Homo sapiens: one gene and its partners. The protein of the gene in region 1 purifies or fractionates together with the protein of each later gene. This does not show direct contact. Each region holds a gene or a part of one and is shown on either strand. Other genes may lie near its edges. The genes, in order: STC2, COL14A1 and PLS1.

The links.
Region 2: the proteins of STC2 (region 1) and COL14A1 purify together in Homo sapiens (affinity purification with mass spectrometry; one large-scale study listed by BioGRID and IntAct). This does not show direct contact.
Region 3: the proteins of STC2 (region 1) and PLS1 purify together in Homo sapiens (affinity purification with mass spectrometry; one large-scale study listed by BioGRID and IntAct). This does not show direct contact.

The regions. Positions count from the first base shown.
Region 1 is NC_000005.10:173,321,915-173,325,567, reverse strand, and holds part of STC2 (stanniocalcin-2 precursor), read left to right. Parts: intron 1-2,137; coding exon 2,138-2,349; intron 2,350-3,653. UniProt on the Homo sapiens protein: Has an anti-hypocalcemic action on calcium and phosphate homeostasis.
Region 2 is NC_000008.11:120,229,530-120,233,182, reverse strand, and holds part of COL14A1 (collagen alpha-1(XIV) chain isoform 1 precursor), read right to left. Parts: intron 1,717-3,653; coding exon 1,565-1,716; intron 1-1,564. UniProt on the Homo sapiens protein: Plays an adhesive role by integrating collagen bundles. It is probably associated with the surface of interstitial collagen fibrils via COL1.
Region 3 is NC_000003.12:142,599,328-142,602,980, forward strand, and holds part of PLS1 (plastin-1), read left to right. Parts: intron 1-1,200; exon of another isoform or gene 1,201-1,419; intron 1,420-3,653. UniProt on the Homo sapiens protein: Actin-bundling protein. In the inner ear, it is required for stereocilia formation. Mediates liquid packing of actin filaments that is necessary for stereocilia to grow to their proper dimensions.

The DNA of each region.
Region 1 (3,653 bases):
CAGGGGCAGGAACCCCCAATTATACATTTCAGAAGTCATTTCACCTACTAGGAAAATGAGACACAAAGTATGTAGAAATCCGTCATGTGGTGTGTGGGCAGCCAACCCGAATAACTCAGGACCTCCAAAAGAGCAGACTTCTATTCCTCCTGAGTAGCAGATCTTTCTCTCCCAAGCTGACCGGTCGAAACCCTGATTGAGTCCTTCAGTTCCACACTTTCCTTTTGCTCTATATGATAAATATAGTCAGGGCCTGACCCACTTCGGTTATCCCAGGGTCCCAAGGGGAACGCGGAGTTGCTGCTCAGGGCAAGGCAGGAACACAACAAGCAACATATGGCTCCAGTGCCAACAACGCAAATACATTTTTAGATGGCATGTGGCATCAGACTCACCTTCTTCGTGTTCTCCCTGGCCACTTATATGCCCTGTTGAAACGCCCTGTTACTATATCTCAGAAACGTCTCTCCTGCTTCATTGGAGAGCAATGCCAACATTTGGAGGTGGCCATCAGCTTAGGTGAGATTTATGGATGTCACCAGTCCCCATCCACTGACATATAGTAGTGAGCCTGACAAAGCAGTGCCTGGGAACAAGGAGGGGAGGCGAAGACGGGGCTGGCAGCCTAAACTGCAGAGGATGTGCGGTGTGGCCAGAGGGGAAACTGAAACCAGGGAAGGAAAGAGGTAGAACTTTGAACTCCTTGAGGCTCCCTAATAAAGCATCACTCTGGATTAACGGGAATTAGGAAACGTAATAGGAAATCCGGAGGAAAGACGTGTATTTAAGGGCAATCCCACAGGATGTCAGGGAAGAATACCAAGAACAGATTGCCACAGCCCTCGCATAAATTCATCTTCCTCTTTTTTTTCCCAACCAACAGGAATACGTTCTCAAGTTAGAGACATCCCTTTCAAGTTGATGCTCAGCACATAACTGCTTAATAAACGGGCACACCCTGCCCTCCATTCTGTTTGGCTCTGGCTGGAGAGTCAAAAGAGAGGGGGCCACGGGGAGGCCATGCGGGCCACATGGTTTTTCAGAGATCAGACGCTATCTGTAGACATTTCTATGGCTGCTAAAGACAAAACCAAAATAAATGTGCTGGCTGGCTTCCCACTTCCAACCTAAACCCATTTACTTTCTCAACTCAGTGACTTCCGGGCCTGTCTAAAAACAGAGGGGTGACCTCTCCGACGACAGCTAGTTTCTATAGTAATGTGGGGTGCGGGGATTCCCGGGTAGGCATCCCACAATGCCTCCGGGCTGCGCGAGGTTGATAAGGGAGCAGCACCGAGCTCGCCTCCACACCCCCAACAGCTGTCTCCTTTCTAGGATAAGCACAATCAGACGGGGTTGCCAGGAAAGAGAACTGCAGGCCAGATGTATGCCTGGCTGCCTTCGCCACTCGGAGGCAGGGAGCGTGGGGGAGGGGCCGCCAGTGCGGCAGTTCAGACTCCAGATGCTGCCAGGCAGGGTGCCAGGCCAGCCTTTTAGAGGCAATAATCCGAACAGTTTAAAGGAGTAGAGTCATTTTCAAAAAGGAAAAGAGCGCTCTTCCTGGTAGGGTAGGAGGAGACAAGGGTATGGATTTGGGGCGTGGGAGGCACGGAGGCAGAAAGGGAGGTACAATCAGCAATCAATCTCGGTGTCGCCCCTGGAATCAAGGGAAAAAGGAAACGTGTGAGATTTGGACATGCAGGCACCTTCCACTTAGGGAAGACTGCTTGTGAGAACCGTGAGGGATTTATGGATTTGTGTCTGGCCAAATTCCCTTTGTGTTCCAGAAAAGTTGCCACCACACAACCAACACAGGGCTACCTGAGGGACACATAGCCACGGAAGCCCCCGTTGGAGGGAAACTCACAGAGTAGCCAGGGAGGAAGGAGGGAGATGTGTTCGTCTACAGAATGAACATCCCTTGTTGCCCAGTGCTGGGGGTGTCATGTCACTCTGGACGTGCCTCCGGATGTCGCATTGCCTGTCACCTGGGAGGACGTCCGTCTCTGGTGGGGCCTTGGGGTTCTGATGTCAGAAATATCCTGTGTAAGCCCAAGAAGGGCTGAAATGTCCAAGCATGTAACGAGGTCTTCTGCTTTCTGCCCCTCTCTCCCTTCCCCGGCCTGTGTGTTCTCAGGGCAAGTCATTCATCAAAGACGCCTTGAAATGTAAGGCCCACGCTCTGCGGCACAGGTTCGGCTGCATAAGCCGGAAGTGCCCGGCCATCAGGGAAATGGTGTCCCAGTTGCAGCGGGAATGCTACCTCAAGCACGACCTGTGCGCGGCTGCCCAGGAGAACACCCGGGTGATAGTGGAGATGATCCATTTCAAGGACTTGCTGCTGCACGAGTGAGTACTGCCCCGCAGAGGGCCTGGGTGAAGGGGCCACCCAGCAAGGATGGCAATGTGTATGGGAGGAGAGCCGCGTTGCTTCTAGAGGCTGAATGCCTGTCAAATGGAGAAGGCTTCCATTTACTTCAGAAAGCTACACTGACTCTACTAAAAGGCCCCTTTCCTGCTGGCTTTTAGGAAAAGAGAGAATTCCCTCATCAGTCTCAAAATCACAAGCAACAGAAATGGGAAATCGTTTTACTAAGAATGAAATGTGTCGATTCAGTAATACTCTTCATCTTCCCCTTAGCCAAGAACCCACTAGCTCTCAGAATATTCTGAGTAGCTGTAGAGGTGTCCTTACAGACAGCAAATTGCTAATAACATTTGTTGAATATTTACTAAGCGCCAGGCACTGGGCTAAGGGCTCCTTGTGAATTTTTCACTTGATCCTCACCACAGCCCTCGTCACCTCCATTTGACAGATGAGAAAACTGAGACTCACTAAGGCAGAGCTCACACAGCTAGTGACAGGCAAAGCCAGACTTGGGACCTGGCTCCAGTCTGCTGAGCAGTCTGCCTCCAGAACCTATACTCTTAAATCCCGAAAACAGAGCTATAGATGCTTTTCCTGCCTCCTTAACTTTCCTTTCCCTTAGAAGGTTCGGTTTACCTTCTCTCATACATTAGTGCCCTCTCAGAGGAAATGCAAAACAAGTGCCAAAAACTTTAATCAGCTAAACACTTCTATGCCAAAACAAGGAAATGTGAACTTACTTATTTCAAGACTTGAAATTCAATGATAAATTCAGGATGCATCATTTCTTACAAAATATTTCAGCCACAGGATCCTAAATTTTGCAGCATGGTAAAGCATGTTGGTACACAATTGTTCCTAACATGAGGCAGGGCCAGGAGCCCCTGAAGATTTTTTTTTTAAATATTGACAATGGCTCTTTCCTAAGAGACACAGGGCAGAAAGAAAGCCACTAGCCAACCAGTTCAGTACAAGTCATTACCAGTTTGATGGCACTGTTGGTCTCTCCACGGTGACTCATTGAGCCAAATCGGTATAATTTTATGAACTCTTGATCCTCAGTTTGTGCCACAACCTTCTTCCAGTTATGTCCCTACCACACCAACACCACTTAGATGACAGAGAACAGCAAGCACCTCCTGTCTCTTTCCACTTGGTTATAAGGTCATAGGCATCTTGCAACACCCTTGCTACAGTGTTAGAATCATACAATTCATGGCGAAACTCTGCAGGAAGCTCTTGCCAAAAGCAAAACAATATTGCATTTTCCTCGAATTAGGCTAAC
Region 2 (3,653 bases), on another chromosome or scaffold:
TCATCTGACAAATGGCTAATATCCAGAACCTACAAGGAACTTAAACCAATTTACAAGAAAAAAACAAACAACTCCATCAAAAAGTGGGAGAAGGATATTAACAGTCACTTTCTCAAAAGAATACATTTATGCAGCCAACAAACATATGAAAAAAAGCTCATCATCGTTGGTCATTAGAAAAACTCAAATCAAAACCACAATGAGATATCATCTCATGCCAGTTAGAACGGCAATCATTAAAAAGTCAGGAAACAACAGATGCTAGAGAGGATGTGGAGAAATAGGAACACTTTTACACTGTTGGTGAGACTGTAAATTAGCTCAACCATTGTGGAAGGCAGTGTAGCGATTCCTCAAAGACCTAGAACTAGAAATACCATTTGACCCAGCAATCCCATTACTGGGTGTATACCCAAAGCATTATAAATCATTCTACTATAACAATACATCCACACATGTTTATTGCAGCACTACTCACAATAGCAAAGACTTGGAACCAGCCCAAATGCCCATCAATGATAGACTGGATAAAGAAAATGTGGCACATATACACCATGGAATACTATGCAGCCATAAAAAAGGATGAGTTCATGTCCTTTGCAGGGACATGGATGAAGCTGGAAACCATCATTCTCTGCAAACTAACACAGGAACAGGCAACCAAACACTACATGTTCTCACTCATAAGTGGGAGTTGAACAATGAGAACACATGGACACAGGGAGGGGAACATTACACACTGGGTCCTGTTGGGGTTGTGGGGCAAGGGGAGGGATAGCATTAGGAGAAATACTTAATGTAGATGACGGGTTGATGGGTGCAGCAAACTACCATGGTCCATGTATACCTATGTAAAAAACCTGCATGTTCTGCACATGTATCCCAGAACTTAAGTATATTAAAAAAAGATAAATAAATTAGAAAAAAAGAGTGTATCATTTAGAAAAAGGAAAGATAGATAAAACAACTCAAAGAAAACTCAATGTATAAAAATCTAAATCCCTGAGGGGATACATCCATGTTACGAATAATTAGAAATGACTATAAATCTACTCAATACGAGTTGATGTCAATGAAAAATATAACTATTGGTTAACGGATGGTATTTTATTAAGAATATTTTCACTATACCATATAGAAGACCTTTTCTGTGTCCTTTGCTTAAAAGTTTTTTTATCAGATTTCCAAGGGCAGAAGAAATTATTTTCTATATTAAACTTTTATACATGTCTATACATACATATATACAGACACAAGTGCATATGGCCTTTTATGACCCAACTTTGGTGCTCGAACAGGTGCAAGGCAGCAGAAGAGAAGCAATATTTGAAACAATGTTCAGAGGTTATTAACTTGGAGCAAGTTGTACATGGAGCAAGTTTTGGATTTATAAAGGTCACTAAGAAGCCAGTAGTGGAGTCAGATTAACAGAGAACATTAGTTTCTGGAGATGGCAGAGTCACTGAGAAAAGAGCAGTAAAGTTTGCATTGATCTCCGAAGACAGTCTTATTAGCTGTGTTAGTAACATCTGCAGAGTTTCTAGTCAGTTGAATTTATACAGACCGTTCCTATGACTTCTTCCTCAGGGTCCCCTTGAGCTGTCATGTAGGTCACCCTAAACTGCTGCACATCGCTGTCAGAAATGTCCCATTTTACCCGCAGGCTAGAAGTAGTTTCATCACCTACAACTAGGTTTCTGATTCCCGTCTGGAAAACTGGAATAAACACAACCAAGGATTAAAAAACTTTTAACATATCATATTCCAAAATGAGCCACAGAGAATACCTGTGGGGTGACAGCAAGCATCATTTAATGTATCCCTGTAATATAGTTGTATATGAGGCAAGAAGGGCTCAGCTATGGTGCTTAATGGGGAGGCATGATACCTACTAGCAGCAAATAAAAGTGGAATTAAGAGATGCTTACAAGATGAGACCATGGAGCCCTCAAAACTGTCAGTTCTGTATGTGCACTAGTAAAGAGAACTGGGAAGAAGCCCTGAGACTAGAAAAACAGCCCATGGAACCCAAAGGAAAGAGTGGTCATGAGAACCTCACACTAGTGCTCTGTGGACAAGTGGGCACAGTGGGCCAGACTTTGTCCACCTCTGTGTGCAATCCAGCATCCAACACACATCCCAATCACCTGCCCTCACCTCCATTTCTCTTTTAACACCTGTCATTCAAAGCACAAATCTGCGCTCAGGCTGCCTTTATCCATTCAGCCCACACAGACACGATCTTTTCTCTGGTACTTGTCCAAACTCCTTTACCTGTGTTTCCTGGCACATTCGTGCTCATCTCTCAAGGTGCCTGCTCCCTTATTTGTTGCATTTTTTTCTTTTCTCTTCTACCCTAACTTCATTTCCCTTTGTCCATCTTTTCTCATTCTCCTTTCTCTTCATTCATCTATTAATTCATTTAGAAAATATTCATTGAACTTTTTCTGTGTGTCAGACTGTTAGGGCTTTGGTTTTTATATAGTTATTAACTCAACAAAAATAGTAAAAGTGTCACAGAGGAGGAGGGGGTTGACATTTACCTGGCAACATTGCAGGGGGGCTACCAGGCAATGGGAATGGGAGGGAACTTCTCACATTTAGGGAAAGGAGTTCGGGATTGCAAGAGAAAAACGGGGGAAGCATAGGAAATATGGTTGAGGCCAGGAAGGGAAGCAGGACCCAACTAGGAAGGATCTTGGATGCTGTGAAAAAGACTTTAAAGCACAAAGAAGGCTTGATAAGGATTAAATGAAGAATGAACAAATCAACAAATGGGTAATGGAGAGCCATTGAAGTGTCTTAGAGAAGTAAATAAATGATATTATCAAACTTGTGTTTTACCAAGTTGACTCTGACAGCTAGTTGGGAGGTGTATTACAGTGAAGGGGAAAGCTAAGCTGAGAGAGGAAACAACTAATGTAGGAAAAACAATAGACCAGCCAAGTGTCAGTTACCCACAGAAATGCAAGGAAAACATGGTAAGAATAATTCTCAACAAGGCCAGGCATGGTGGCTCATGCCTGCAATTCCAGAACTTTGGGAGGCCAAGGATGAAGGAACATTTGAGCTCAGGAGTTAAAGACCAGCCTGGGTAATATGGAAAGACCTCATCTCTACTAAAATTCAAAACGATTAGCCAGGCACGATGACACATGTCTGTAGTCCCAGCTACGTGGGGGGCTGAGGCTGGAGGATCACATGAGCCCAGGAAGTCAAGGCTGTGGTGAGCCTTGATCGTGGTGCTGCACTCCAGCCTGGATGACAGAATGAAACCCTGTCTCTAAAAGAAAAAAAGAGAAAAGAAGGGGAATTCTCAACAGAGAGCAACAGAAGTGCAAATCAAAACCACAATGAGATACCATCTCACACCAGTTAGAATGGCAATCATTAAAAAGTCAGGAAACAACAGGTGCTGGAGAGGATGTGGAGAAATAGGAACACTTTTACACTGTTGGTGGGACTGTAAACTAGTTCAATCATTGTGGAAGACAGTGTGGCGATTCCTCAGGGATCTAGAACTAGCAATACCATTTGACCCAGCCATCCCATTACTGGGTATATACCCAAAGGACTATAAATCATGCTGCTATAAAGACACGTGCACATGTATGTTTATTGTGGCACTATTCACGATAGCAAAGACTTGGAAC
Region 3 (3,653 bases), on another chromosome or scaffold:
TTTTTTTTTTTTTTTTTTTTGAGATGGAGTCTCGCTCTGTCGCCCAGGCTGGAGTGCAGTGGCGCAATCTCGGCTCACTGCAAGCTCCGCTTCCCAGGTTCACGCCATTCTCCTGCCTCAGCCTCCCGAGTAGCTGGGACTACAGGCGCCCGCCACCGCGCCCGGCTAATTTTTTGTATTTTTAGTAGAGACGGGGTTTCACCTTGTTAGCCAGGATGGTCTCGATCTCCTGACCTCATGATCCACCCGCCTCGGCCTCCCAAAGTGCTGGGATTACAGGCGTGAGCCACCGCGCCCGGCCAGATATTCTTAACTAAGCTAGTTAGTGGGATAGCCAGAAGCTCTGTTCAAATTTCCTCATTACTAGACCCAAGCTCTTTTCATTAACTATTACTTTTTGAGGTTGTTGGCCCCACGATTATTTTTATTTATTTATTTATTTTTTGAGACAGGGTCCCACTCTGTCACCCAGGCTGGAGTGCAGTGGCACGATCACTGCTCACTGCAGCCTTGACCTCCCCGGGCTCAAGTGATCCTTCCCACCTCAGCCTCCCAAGTAGCTGTGGCCACAGGCACGTGCCACCATGCGTGGCTAATTTTGTATTTTTTTGTGTTTAGAGATGGGGTCTCACTATTTTTCCCAGGCTGGTCTTGAATTCTTTGGCCTGCCTCAGCCTCCCAATGTGTTAGGATTACAGGCCTGAGCCACCATGCTCAGCCTCCCAAGATTAATTTGAGTTGGTAGCAAGACACTCCAGTTCAAGATGTTCTGTGGACTGAAAGCCCTCAGAAACCAATCTAAGGGGGAAATTTGGTGGTCGATGAGAGAATGTGTGTGTCATCGGAAGAGGTGAAACACAAGGCTGCTGGCCAGTTCAAGGTTGAGTGTACACAGTGAGGAGGGAGTGAGGCTGGGGTCCTAGGAATCTTCACACTGGGGAGTTGAAGTCTGGAAAGGTCATGGTAGCTTAGCTTGTCAGAGGCAGACACAAATGGGTTGGCCCAAAGTCCTTGGGACTGAGAGTCTATTTCCTAGATATATTGTACACTACCAGGAGGTGGTGAGCAATGGCTTTGGAGAGGGTAGGCCAGGTGCAGTGAGGGTAGGCCAGGAGGGTGGCACCAAAGGGTGGTGTTTATGACCCAAGAACATGGGGGTGAGGTAAGGCTGAGAGAGAGACAATTGTGATCAGATTCTACCTGGAAAAACAAGACAGAAAGCAGTGCTGCTGAATCCAAACTTCCAGTTCAAGAGGTGGTTTGGAATATTTGTTTACTTGGAACAGATGTTGCATTTTGCAAATCATAGCCATTTTGCAAATCAAAACACAGCCTTTCCATTGAGCTGCACACAGCGATGAGGGAGCTGTTGGATGCCACATCCTTGCCATTGACTTGCACACTGTGGTTGACCACCATCTTCATATTTCCACAGGCAACGATGGTCCATTAAAAATGTCAAGGAGAGAGAGAGCAGTTGAGAGGAGAGACAGAACAAATGAGCTTGAGAAATGGCTAGCAGTGGGGAAGGGAAGGGTTGGCCTGGTTTCATATATATATATATATATATATATATATATATATATATATTTTTTTTTTTTTTTTTTTTTTTTTGAGACGGAGTCTCGCTCTGTGGCCCAGGCGGGAGTGCAGTGGCGCAATCTCGGCTCACTGCAAGCTCCGCCTCCCGGGTTCACGCCATTCTCCTGCCTCAGCCTCCCGAGTAGCTGGGACTACAGGCACCCGCCACCACGCCCGGCTAATTTTTTTTTTATTTTTAGTAGAGACGGGGTTTCACTGTGTTAGCCAGGATGGTCTCGATCTCCTGACCTCGTGATCCGCCCGCCTTGGCCTCCCAAAGTGCTGGGATTACAAGCATGAGCCACCGCGCCCGGCCTATATTTTTTATATATATATGTTTTTCATGATGACGTTAGTGAAAATTGATTAGGCAGATGCAAAATCAGGTAGTATGTTGAAGTTAATGTCTCATACACTTAAATGTCCAAATATTAAATCCTAGAATTTACCATGGCCCTTTGTAAAATGACAAATATCTTTCTTAAAATAATAATAGTAATATTAGTAACTAGTATTACAGAATATCTTCCATGAACCAGGCACTATACTAAATACAAGTAATATATCATTTCATCTTTATAAACCATCCTGTGAGATAGGTGCAACAATTACTCATTTATTTTTAATTTTTATTTTTTAAAAACAGGGTTTCAGTCTGTCACCCAATCTGGAGTGGAATGGCACAGTCATAACTCACTGTAACCTTGAACTCCTGGGCTCAAGCAGTCCTCCCGCCTCAGCCTCCCAGGTGTGGACCAACGTGCCCGGCTTATTAAAAAAAATTTTTTTATAGTGATAAGGTCTTGCTATGTTGTCTAGGCTGATCTCAAACTTTTAGCCTCAAGCAATCCTCCCACCTCAGCTTCCCGAAGCCCTGAGATTACAGGCATGAACCACTGCACCTGACCTACCCTCATTTTCTAGATGAGAAAATTGAGGCTTAGAGAGATAGATAAAAGCATTTATCTGAGGTCATATAGTTTACAAGTGGCTGAGCTGAGATTTGACCCCAGGCCTATCTGACTTTATACACTGAGCGCTCAAATAACTTAATCAAATATCTTAACAAAAATGCAAAGCTCTTTCTGAGGTAACTCTAACAGATGCTTAGAATAGCCACAGGTTTCAGCTGGTGGAACCACCAACATTCTTTGAGCCACATTTAAAAAAACCAAAACAACAGTGGTAAATCGTTCCGGTTTTTTTTTTTTTTCATTCCACTTAGTCTTTATCTCCTTTTCTCTTGAAGCATTCCTAGAGAAAGGGACAGCAGCTTTTTCTCTGGGTACACCATTAAAGCCACTTCTGATCTGCTCCCACCCTCTTTTGGGGTGGAGCTGTGATTGGGGAGTGAGTTGGTGGTCATCCAGGGCGTGTCTGTGGAGTTGGCAATGGGAAACTGGGAAGCTCACCTTGTGTAGGAGCCTAAGAACTCTGGAGTGACCAGGTATAAGGATTTCTTTCCCTGGGGTGTCAGGATCCACTGCTGGAAGCTCCTGGAATATCTATGGATCATGACTCTAATCTTAGGCCTTTGAACTATGGCCATAAACCCCCAGGAAGAATCCAGGTGTGAACACATTCTCCCCCAATTTTTAAGATTGGGGAGTTGTGAAGTCCCTGTGGACTAATTGGAGGTGGGTGTGGATACCTCAGGAAAGGCCCCAGGTCAAAGACAAATAATTTAAAGGCCCCCCCCACCCCATAGGCCCCAGCTTTGACCTGTGAGAAAATGTGCTCCTCTCCCTCCTCTTGATGAACCTAATTACATAGAGAACTTACTCTCCTGGGAGTCTCAAAATGGAACTCAGCTGAGAGCGTGCTTCCCTCCCTTGCTGCCTGAGCTCTCTTTCCATTTCCTGGTTCTGCTTTACCTTCCCCTGAGTGGTTCTGTGTTCCCAGGATATGAAAGGCAGGGCCGCAGCTTCTGGCTTCACCGGGCTAATTTTTGTATTTTTAGTAGAGTCGGGGTTTCACCATGTTGGCCAGGCTGGTCGCCAACTCCTGACCTCAAGTGACTCGCCCGCCTCAGCCTCCCAAAGTGTTGAGGCTGAGGCCACCTCTGGCCCTCA